Linked DNA regions of Homo sapiens. The protein of the gene in region 2 interacts with the protein of the main gene of each other region in a pairwise test. Each region holds a gene or a part of one and is shown on either strand. Other genes may lie near its edges.

Region 1 (3,649 bases), on a different chromosome or scaffold from region 2:
AGAGAGAATATGTATTATTGAGTCAATTTATCATAATCCAGTTTAGAAATTACATTTGCCAGTTAAAAGAAGGCCCTTCAAAATAGGCTTTTGCTTATTTGTTTCATTATGGCTCATTCTTCTTTAATTGGAAAAGTGCCAGTCCTCCTGAGGGTCAGCTCTGTGCACAAATTTGCCTGATAAAATAGAAACAGTGACGAATTGGACAACAAGTTGGCATCAAAACAAGAGGAAGAAGGCACTGCCGATGAGCAGAACCTGTTATGATCTTTGAGGAGAAAGTATTTCCCATGCTCCAAGAGCAGGGTTAGTGGGCTGAGGCTGTTCACATCCTTGGCTGGTTCTTCCTTTGCCACATCTCCCACATTCACCATTCCCTCTCCTGTCACCACCACTATCCTCATCTGCCAGGACTGCTGACCCCTAATTCCTCCGCCTAACACTAGTCTCTCCTCATGTCCTTCAGTCTGTCTCCCACAACCAAGGATCTTCCCTAAACAATGCCATTCTCCTGTGCAAAATCATTCATGCTCCCTGCTGCCTTCAAACCTCACCTGCACTCCTAGCAGCGAATGTAATCCCACTCACCTGGCTAACTTTGCCTTGCTTCCTCTCTATAGAGGGCAGTGTGGCAGAAGGGGAATGACATTAAATGTGGAGGCACGAGGATTTTTTTTTTTTTTTTTTTTTTTTTTTTGAGACAGGGTCTGACTCTGTCACCCAGGCTGGAGTCCAGTAGCACGATCACAGCTCACTGCAGCCTCGACCTCCCAGGCTCAGGTGTTCCTCCCCACTACCCTCCCACCCCGTCACCCCAGCAGCTGGGATTACAGGCAAGCATCACTATGTCCAGCTAATTTTTGTAGAGACGGGATATCACCATGCTGCCCAGGTTGGTCTTGAACTCCTGGGCTCAAGCGATCCTCCTGCCTCAACCTCCCAAAGTGCTGGGATAATAGGCATGAGCCACTGTGCTTAGCCTGGCACAAGATCTTGATTTCAGTGTCTTCACCTAGAAAATGGGAGGGTTTTGTTTGTTTTTTGTTTTCTGAGACAGGATCTCGCTCTATTGCCCAGGCTGGAATTCAGTGGCAACATCGCAGCTTGCCACAGCCTCAACCTCTCAGGTTCAAGTGATCCTCCTACTTCAGCATCATGAGTAGCTGGGACTACAGGCATGCACCACTGAAAATGGAAGTATTAACAATGCCTGCCACTGCCTACTCAAGATGTTGCAAAGATCCAACGAGATCTCTAACCTACTTGAAAGGGCTTCAGAAACTTTGGAGCACCATACAGTATCACACAAGCCCTCAATTACTGCCACGTCCCTGAATCCCTTGGTGTCAATTCACCATTAAACAACTTCTCCCTTGCTCTGCAGTTTGAATACGGTCTGTCTTTTAGGCACTGATTCTCATACTCTGGTGTGTAACAGAAATGCCTGTAGCACTTAAAGATACAAATGCCCAGCCCTGGGACTTCTGCCTCAGCAAGTTATCCTTTGCGGGAAGGATCGTTGGACAGAAAGAGGCAGAACACAGAAGAGAAAGAAGCAGCAGCACCTTTTTTTTTCTTTTCTTTTTTTCTCTTTTTGAGACAAGGCCTCACTCTGTTGCCCAGGCTGAAGTGCGGTGGCATGATTATGGCTCACTATAGCCTCGACATCCTGGACTCAAGCAATCCTCCCACCTTAGCCTCCTGAGTACGTAGAACTACGGGCATGCACTACCAGGCCTGGCTAATTTTTTAATTTTTGTTTTGTTTGTTTTGTAGAGACAGGGTCTCACTATATTGCCAAGGCTGGTCTTGAACTCCTGGCTCAAGTGATCCTTCCACTTTGGCCTCCCAAAGTGCTGGGATTACAGATGCGAGCCATCATGCCCAGTGGAGAAGCAGCACTCTTGGCACATAAGGACAACACAAGTCAACAAGACTGGGGACCAAATTAACAAAGGGAAGCCTTTCTGTGATACAGTCCCCCAAGCCACTGCCAGACCTACCTCCTTATGGACATGAGTGATGGCTGTGGAGAGTTCTAAGCCATCAAGCAAATTATTGCCATCATAATCATGCATTTTGAAGTAATGGAGCTGCAATTCTTGTGGCGACATCTCCGCCTCTGGTTTGTTGATGACACCTTCTAGATGCTCCATGATATGCCTAAAAATCAACAGTCAGGTTCAGGCCAATTGACAGATACTGGGATCATGCTGAAATCTTAAGGACTCTGAAAAGTTCAAGATCTTAAACTTCCTCCAGCTCAGAAAAACAAACACCAGCAGTGGCAGACCACACTCAAGGATTACACAGAGATAGACAAGGCCTTGAGAGGAGCAGGAAAAGTCAAATAGACCATCTGTTATGCTGGCAGGATTAGGGTATTCTTTCCTCTTTATTATTAGAATTTTGTTATAACATTTTCAGGCCATCAATTTAAAAATATGTCCTTTAAAACTTTTTTTTTTTTTTGAGACAGGGTCTCACTCTGCCACCCAGGCTGGAGTGCAGGAGCGTGATCTTGGCTCATTGTAGCCTCAACTTCCCAAGCTCAGTTGATTCTCCCACTTCAGCCCCCCAAGTAGCTGGGACCATAGGCATGTACTGCCACATCCAGCTAATTTTTTGCAATTTTTTAGTAGAGACAGGTTTTCCCTATATTGCCTAGGCTGGTCTCGAATTCCTGGGCTCAAGTAATCCACCTGCCTCAGCCTCCCAAAGCACTGGGATTACAGGTGTGAGCCACTGCACCCAGCCTTAAAAACAAAGGATAACCGAGTATAATGCGTGAGGCTAACTGGCCCAAGACAAAAGCTGCAACAAATGATTCAATGTTTGAATGTGTTGATTTAAAAAAGGTCTTGTTATAGTCAAGAAACCTTAGCTATTTTCTGGATTCTGCTACTATGACTGTGTATGTGTACCTGTGTGTCTATTTGTATGTGTGTGTGTCTGTCTGTGGTGAAAAAAAGGAGAGACCGGATTCAGACAAGTAATGTGCCCCATTTGGGCCTAAAGATCTTCCACCTGTGATACAATGATGAAAAAAGAATACCTGACTTATAGGTGGCAATAAGGAATAAGAATCATCCTTGAAGAATGTCAAGGAGCCATAGAAACAGGAAGAAGGAAAGGAGGACTGAGCATGCCCTTGCCGCTGGCTCAGCTGCAGATGATGGGGAGGCCACTGGACCACAGCCCGGGCTGAATACGTACTCTTGGTCGTGCACTGTGTTCTTATCCAGGCCCATGCTGCCGGGTTGGGAGAAGCTGGCTGCAGGCTCCTCAGCCCTGGCGCCTGGGGCACAAAAGGCCCAGAGCAGGCCACACAGGAAGGGGGTTCTGAGCAGGGATCTCATGGTCATCAATATCTGTGAGATGGGAAACACAGAAGAGGAAGGCAGAGCATCAGAGCAAAGGTTTCGTTCAGGGCTTGACATGGTATGATCCTGGGAAACCTGATGAAGCAGTAAGGTTAGGAAGAGAGCTTGTCAAACACGGCCCAATGCCAGCTCTGCTTTGAGACTGTGGGATGACCCTGGGCACTCCAAGTCACTCAAATGGCAGGGGAAGGCTCACGAGGTTTCCTGAAGTGCCTGCAGAGTGCCAAGCAACACGTGAAAGCTTGAAGGGACTGGAAGATTATTCT
Region 2 (4,312 bases):
GTTATCTACACCCAAATTTTCATTCTTCATCATGAATTCAGATTCCTGCCTCCATCTACATGGATGTTTTCAGAAGTAACATAAATTCCAAAAGCCCCAACCAACTAACTCTTGATTTTCCAAATGCCAAATTTTCTCCACTTACAGTCTTCCCCTTCTCAATCCAAGTGTTCAAGCAAAACTCTTGAATTCTTCCTTGACTCTTATTATATTTCCTTCCTACCCTCACCTATCCCCTATACATCTTAACCACCATATCACTTTAACAATCTTTACCACAACCTCCCTGTTCCTAGTCACCATCACTGCCCACCTGCAAGAGTTTCCTACCTGGGGTCCTTCTACACCAGTAAGCTGCCACAGAGTTTATAGAGGATGGGTGACAAGTGGAAATTCTTTACAGTCCTTAATATTGCAGTCAGAGTGATTCCTGAACATGCATGAGAACACACCCTTCTCTGCTCAGAATCCTCCTATGGATTTTCATCACAGAGTCAAAGTCAAAGTCTTTCTGGTGGTCTAGGCCCTGCCACCTCTCTAACTTCAGCTCACCCTATGCTTCCTCCTGCTCATTCATAGCTGTTTCCTTGGTTACATCAAACGAATTCTCACCTCCATGCTGTTTTTCTCCCCTAGTTTTCAATGGGCTCTTCTCTCGCTCATCTCAGGTCTGTGCTGACACATCATCAGTGAGGCCTTCCCTGACTTCCCTCATGAAATAGCAACCCACATTCTCCCCCAATCCAGCCCCACCTAACACTCCATATCCCCCTTCCTGATTTGTTTTACTCCACAGCAACCTACTACCACCATCTGACCTGTGATCCATTTACTTATTAACTATATCTCTGAAAAGAAGATACACTGCATGGTGCCAGAGGCTTTAAAAAAATTTTACTGCTCTTTAGCATGTCATAAACATTCAACAAAGAATTCTTTAAAGAACAAATGAGTCCAACTGCTAACTTACAGATCAAGAAACTCAGTGTCAGGGAGCCCTGTGCCTTGTCTTCTGTCTTGTGGTGACACAGTGTAGAACCCTGTCTAAAACCTTCATCTCCCTCTGCCCATTACCATATTGTCCTCACTGCACCACACTGCTTTTAACTTCCTGAAGGACTCAGAAGTTTCCATAATAATTATTAACTATTAACTTTGTTTTCTTCTCCATAATTCAAACAGAAGACATCCCAATTCTTTTTTTTTTTTTTTTTTTTTTCCAGAGAGGGAGTCTTGCTCTGTTGCCCAGGCTGGAGTGCAATGGCGTGATCTCAGCTCACTGCAACCTCTGCCTCCCGGGTTCAAGCAATTCTCCTGCCTCAGCCTCCTGAGTAGCTGGGATTACAGGCATGTGCCACCATGCCCAGCTAATTTTTTGTATTTTTAGTGAAGGCGGAGTTTCAACATGTTGGCCAGCCTGGTCTCGAAATCCTGACCTCATGATCTGCCCTCCTCGGCCTCCCAAAGTGTTCAGATTACAGGCATGAGAGCCACCGTGCCTGGCTGACATCCCAATTCTTGGGAAAAATATTTGCAAACTATTCATCCAACAATGGATTATTATCCAGAATATACAAGAAACTCAAAAACCTCAAAGACAAAGTAATAATAATAATAATATTTTAAAATGGGCAAATGATCTGAATAGACATTTCTCAAAAGAAGACAAACAAATGTCCAACAAGTATATGAAAAAGTGGTCAACATCATTAATCATCAGGGAAATGCAAATCAAAACCAGAATGAGACACCATCTCAGCCCAGTTGGAATGGTTATTACCAAAAAGACAAAAAAAGTGCTGACAAGGATGTGGAGAAAGAGACCTATTATATACCATTGGTGAAAATGTAAGTTGATACAGCCATTATGGAAAACAGTATGGAGGTTCTTCAAAAATCTAAAAATAGAATGACCACATGATTCAGCAATTCCACTAGTGGGTATATATCCAAGGGAAAAGACATCAGTCTGCACTTCCATGTTTATTGTAGCACTATTCATGATGGCCAAGATGTGAAGTCAACCTAAGTGTCCATCAAGAGATGAATGGATAAAGTGTGGTATATAAACACAAATGAATACTACTTAGTCACTGAAAAAAATGAAATTGCTTCATTTGTGGCAGCATGGATGAGCATGGAGGACATTATGTTAAATGAAATAAGCCAGGCACAGAGAGATAAATACCACATATTCTTATGCATATGCAGGAACTAAACCAGGGTATCTTATGGAGATAGAGAGTAGAATGATACTTATTAGAGGCTGCAAAGGATAGGGGAGAGAAAGGAAATGAAGAGAAGTTTGTCAATGTGTACAAAAGCACAGTTATGTAGACAGAATAAGTTCTAGTATTTGATAGTACAATAGGAAAATTAAAGTTACTGATAATCTGTTGTGTATTTCAAAGTAGCTAGAAGAGAATAATTATAATGTTCCCGACACAATGCAAAGATAAATGTTTGAGTTGCTGAATATGCTAATTACCCTGATTTGATCTTTACAAATTGTATACATGTATAGAAATACTACTTTGTATGCCATAAATATGTACAATTATATGTCAATTAAAAATAATAGTAAAAAACTAAAAATTAATGAAAGATATTCCATTTTGTTCTTACCTCTATTTGTTCAATTATTTTTTCATCTTCTGGCACACTAGGATCTATAACAATGACAATATCTTCAAAGCCATTATTATTCAGCTTAATGAAGGAAGTATTTGACTGGTGCAGCAGGCACAGAACTAAGAGGAAAACAAAACCTCTGAATAACCCCATTGTTCCTCTCTAGTTATTCCTGGCTCAAATGTTGGTTTGTTCAAGAGGCTTTTCTTTTCTTTCTCTTTATATACGTTCCTAAAACTTACCAGTATTGGCTGATTATGGGATGTTGACTGTATAAAGGTACATTACATGAGAAAATACATGACTAATTCACCTGATTGCTTAATTATATGTTACATAAAAGTGACTAAGAGTCAGAATAAATCAGATCATTTTATAAAATGCATTGCACATTTTCCTGTTGGAACACGTTTTCTTTATTGTTGTCATTGTTGATATTCTAAGGGCTCCTTGACAACAGGGATTTTTTTTTTTCAATAGGTTTTTGGGTAACAGGTGGGGTTTGGTTACATGAATAAGTTCTTTAATTATAATTTCTGAGATTTTGGTGCACCTAACCACCCGAGCAGTGTACACTGTACCCAATGTGTAGTCTTTTATCCCTCACCTCCCCCTCCTATCCTTTTCCCCGAGTCCCCAAAGTCCATTGTGTCGTTCTTATGCCTTTGCATCCTCATGGCTTAGCTCCCACTCATGAGTGAGAACATATGATGTTTGGTTTTCCATTTCTGAAATTGGCTGCTGCAAATGCCATTATTTCATTTCTTTTTATGGCTAAGTAATATTCCATGGTGTGTGTGTATGTATGTAGGTATATGTGTATATATATATATCACATTTTCTTTATCCACTGGTTGATTGATGAGCATTTGGGCTAGTTTCATATTTTGCAATTGCAAATTGTGCTGCTATAAACGTGTGTGCAAGTATCTTCTTCATATATGACTTCTTTTCCTCTGGATAGATACCCAGGAGTGGTATTGCTAGGATTGCTGGATCAAATGGTAGCTCCACTTTTAGTTCTTTTTTTTTTTGAGATGGACTCTCACTCTGTTGTCCAGGCTGGAGTGCAGTGGCGCGATATCGGCTCACTGCAACCTCCGCCTCCAGGGTTCAAGGAATTCTTCTGCCTCAGCCTCCTCAGTAGCTGGGATTACAGGCGTGTGCCACCATGCCCGGCTAATTTTTGTATATTTGTTTGTTTGTTTGTTTGTTTTTTAGTAGAGATAGGTTTTCACCATGTTGGTCAGGCTGGTCTTGAACTCCTGAACTCGTGATCCACCAACCTTGGCCTCCCAAAGTGCTGGGATTACAGGTGTAAGCCACCACACCCAGCCCACTTTTAGTTCTTTAAGGAATCTCCATACTGTTTTCCATAGTGGTTGTACTAGTTTACATTCCCAGCAGCAGTGTAAAAGTGTTCCCTTTTCACCACATCCATGCCAACATCTATTATTTTTTGATTTTTTGATTATGGCCATTCTTGCAAGAGTAGGGAGGTATCGCATTGTAGTTTTGATTTGCATTTTTCTGATCATTAGTGATGTTGAGCATTTTTTCATATGTTTGTTGGCTGTTTGTATACCTTCTTTTGAGAATTGTCTATTCATTTCCTTAGCCCACTTTTTGATGGGACTGTTTGTTTTTTTCTTGCTGATTTGTTTGAGTTTGTTGTAGATTC
Region 3 (3,649 bases), on a different chromosome or scaffold from region 2:
GGGTATGTGTGTCTCAAGTTACGAACCAATACTGATTCATTGCTACAAATAGGGTCCATAGTTTACATTAAGGTTCACTTGTTTTGTACTTGGATTTTGACAATCCAGATTTCAAGAATTATATGTAGATAATGAATCCATAAAGGAATAAAAAGAAAACAGATTTTGAAGCAAGTGTTAAATTGCTGAACTTAGGAAACAGGTGAATAATATTTAACAGGCGTTGGTATCCTTACTGTATCAAGAACGTTTATAACTCAGTGGGCAAGCAAGACCGCGAACACGTGGTTCATAGACGTGCTAACAATGTACCCTCAAGGAATCGCTGCTGGCGGAGAAGAACACTACGTCCACAGAACGCCACCGGGCACTGCCTCTGGAGCGTGGCTTCAACCCACCTCTGAAGCCCACTGGCCCGCATCCTTCAGTTTGGGGAACCTGCCCAAAAGCAGACACTGGCTAGCGAGCTGAATAGACAAGTGTGCGGCGCTTTCCACATAAATCCCTAAAGAATGACCCAAAGAGTCTGTCACTGAAGAACAAATCCACACGGACAGCAAGAACCACAGAGTGCAGACCCCAGGGCCTGCGACGCCGGCGTGACAGACTGCAACCCCAGGGAGAGGATGTCCTCTCCCCACCACACCCTCGCTCCTGCCACCCCTGTGCCCACACCGCATGCCCAGCCGTGGCCTGGCCTCACCTTTGGAGGGGCACAAGGCATGCAGGGTGGTGCCTGCACCTGTCCCTTGCTCTCCAGAGCCTGGCCCTTCACAGCCCTCCCCACTGACACACTCTCTTTGGAGCCACACTCCCTCTGGCTCCTGTCTACTTGCCTCACTCCACTTCACGGCCAAACCTGGCCCTGACCCCTCATCACTGGCCCCCTCTCCGCCCAGCTCCACCAGCCTCTCCAGTGAGATTCCAGTAACCAGCGACCCTGGGAGCACATCCAACCCCCTTCTCTCCACTATCCTGGGGCACATCCAGCCCCCTTCTCTCCATTCTGGTCAGAGTAGCACCCAGCACAGCAAGTCACCCTTCTTTCCTGAACAACCCCTCAGCCTTCCCCTGGACCCGCCTCGGCTGCCCCTCTCTCAGCGAGGCCTGCTCCTGGGCCGGGCACTGAAGCCCAGCCTAGAACCACACTCGACCCCCCAAGGCTTCAAACACCTCTGCCCTCCACCCCCACACTCACATGCCCAAATCCCAGAGGCCAGCTGCTGGCCTCAGACTGCCTGTTCAAACTCTGGCCTCAGCACCCAAGAGCATCTCAAACTCCGTTCCTCACCCCCATCTCCTGCTCCTCCCCAAAAGCCTCTCCCACTTAGCATCCTCCAGGTGCTCAAGCCTAATCCCTGTAGCTGGCCTGCTGATCTTTTGCCTCTCAACCCCCTGAACCCAGCCAGTACTCCAGCATTGCTACCACCGCCACTTCCTCCCTAAAGTCTGAGCCATCGCCATCTACCCTGGGACTGCCACAACAGTCACCAGCGCCCCCCTCAAAACTGTACTGGAATAGGATTTTTTTTTTTTAAAGTCATGGCTGGGTGCGGTGGCTTACCTGGCCAACATGGCAAAACCCCATCTCTACAAAAAAAAAAACAAAAAACAAAAAAAACAAAAAAACAAAAAAACACACAAAAAATTAGCCGGGCATGATGGCACATGCCTGTAGTCCCAGCTACTCAGGAGGCTCAGGTGAGAGGATCGCTGGAGCCCAGGGGGTCGTGGCCGCAGTAAGACGAGATCATGCCACTGCACTCCAGTCTGAGATTGTCTCAAAAAAAAAAAAAAAAAAAAAAAGTCATTAAATACTGCCAAAAAGGAGGGGAAACTTGGATACAGCAAACAATGGTAAATAAAGTAACCAGTAAAATGTATACTTCAATCTAATAATCATGGTTGCTTGATGGGGGAATAAGAAGCACCGGAACTAAGATGACATACAGCCTCCACCTAGGGAAGGTGGCACACAGGACCGATCAGCTCTCAACAGTTACACAAAGAGGGGCTCACGTGTTTGTTTTTAAAACTGAAAGATGGGCTGGGCACAGTGGCTCACAATTATAAACCCAGAGCTTTGGGAGGCTGAGACGGGAAGATCCCTTGAAGCCAAGGGTTCAAGACCAGCCCAGGCAACATAGTAAGACCCTATTGCTACAAAAAATTTTAAAAATTAGCCGGATGTGGTGGTATGTGCCTGTAGTCCCAGCTACTCGAGAGGCTGAGGTGGGAGGATGGCTTGAGCCCAGGAGGTCAAGGCTGCAGTGAGCTGTGATAGGACCACCACACTCCAGCCTGGGTGACAGAGCAAAGCCCTGTCTCTTAAAAAAAAAAAAAGAAAAGAAAAAATTGAAACATATCCACTAGAAGAATAATAAGAAAACGGTGAGGAAGCCTAACAAATTAAAAAGGTAGGCCCGAATTCCCACTTATCAGTAATCACAATTGTAAATGACTAAATTACTCTACAAAAAGACTTTTGGATTGAGTTAAAAATATAACTATAAAATAAGATGAAAAGGTTGAAAATAAGGAAATGAAGAAATAAGACGTTAAACGGGACAAAAAGGAGTTTCTTGTGTTGGTAACAGGAAAACTTATGCATCAAACAGCATGGTCTTGAGGCAGAAAGCAAAACTTGGACATACAAGCAGAAACGGGCACCTCCAGAACCACAGGGGAGGTCTACCTCACCTTTCCTGGAAATCAGCAGACCGAGAGCCTGACAAGAAGCTAGGGAACGCTCTGGTCCGCTGACTAACACAAGTAAGCAAGTGCCCAGCTTCAGGCGGGAACAATATAACCAAGGAGTGGTGAGGATACATTCTTCTAGCACTACACTGCAACAGTCACAAAAAGGGACTGTGTTAGCCACAGTGAAGTCTCAAAGGATTCCAAAAAGCAGAACTCCTTCAGTCCTTACCATTAGACCTTAATGCAATCAAATTTTAAAGTAACTACAAAAAAATTTGCTCCCCTCGCCCAATCTGTGTGCACTGAAAAATCTGTCAACACCCTTTTAAATAACCACAGGGTTAAAGGGGGCATCGAGGCTGGAATTACAAACGACTCAGAAATGAACAGCAACAAAAGCAGAGAGAGGCAGATCCATGGCACGCAGCCCAAGGAACAGCAGAGCCACAGCCTCCATTGCAGGGTTAAGGAACACGCCAGGAACCAGAACTACAAGAAAAAACCCAACAAAGCAAAAAGATGTAAGGATTAACCAGCATAAACAACAACTCAGAGACACGAAGGGCTGGCTGTTTGCAAAAACCTGTAATGGAGACAAACTTCAGGAAGTTTAACCAAGAGGAACAGAGAGAAGCTGTCTAAAGCAGCATTAGCTCTGATAACTACAAACAGCTTTAAAATTCCAAGAGAAGCTGGGAGGCCGAGGCGGGTGGATCACCTGAGGTCGGGAGTTCGAGACCAGCCTGACCAACATGGAGAAACCACTGTCTCTACTAAAAATACAAAATTAGCTGGGTGTGGTGGCGCATGCCTGTGATCCCAGCTACTCGGGAGGCTGAGGCAAGAGAATTGCTTGAACCCGGGAGGTGGAGGTTGCGGTGAGCCAAGATTGCACCATTGCACTCCAGCCTGGGCAACAAGAGCAAAACTCCGTCTCAAAAAAAAAAAA

The links.
Region 1: the proteins of CLCA4 (region 2) and MCFD2 interact in a two-hybrid assay, tested with the Homo sapiens proteins (one large-scale study listed by BioGRID).
Region 3: the proteins of CLCA4 (region 2) and THAP4 interact in a two-hybrid assay, tested with the Homo sapiens proteins (one large-scale study listed by BioGRID).

What each region holds. Positions count from the first base shown.
Region 1 is NC_000002.12:46,905,807-46,909,455, forward strand, and holds part of MCFD2 (multiple coagulation factor deficiency protein 2 isoform A precursor), read right to left. Parts: intron 3,372-3,649; 5' UTR 3,366-3,371; coding exon 3,217-3,365; intron 2,873-3,216; exon of another isoform or gene 2,164-2,872; coding exon 2,004-2,163; exon of another isoform or gene 1,078-2,003; intron 1-1,077. UniProt on the Homo sapiens protein: The MCFD2-LMAN1 complex forms a specific cargo receptor for the ER-to-Golgi transport of selected proteins. Plays a role in the secretion of coagulation factors.
Region 2 is NC_000001.11:86,545,592-86,549,903, reverse strand, and holds the start of CLCA4 (calcium-activated chloride channel regulator 4 precursor), read right to left. Parts: upstream 2,827-4,312; 5' UTR 2,785-2,826; coding exon 2,626-2,784; intron 636-2,625; exon of another isoform or gene 619-635; coding exon of another isoform or gene 613-618; intron 1-612. UniProt on the Homo sapiens protein: May be involved in mediating calcium-activated chloride conductance.
Region 3 is NC_000002.12:241,627,143-241,630,791, forward strand, and holds part of THAP4 (peroxynitrite isomerase THAP4), read right to left. Parts: intron 1-3,649. UniProt on the Homo sapiens protein: Heme-binding protein able to scavenge peroxynitrite and to protect free L-tyrosine against peroxynitrite-mediated nitration, by acting as a peroxynitrite isomerase that converts peroxynitrite to nitrate.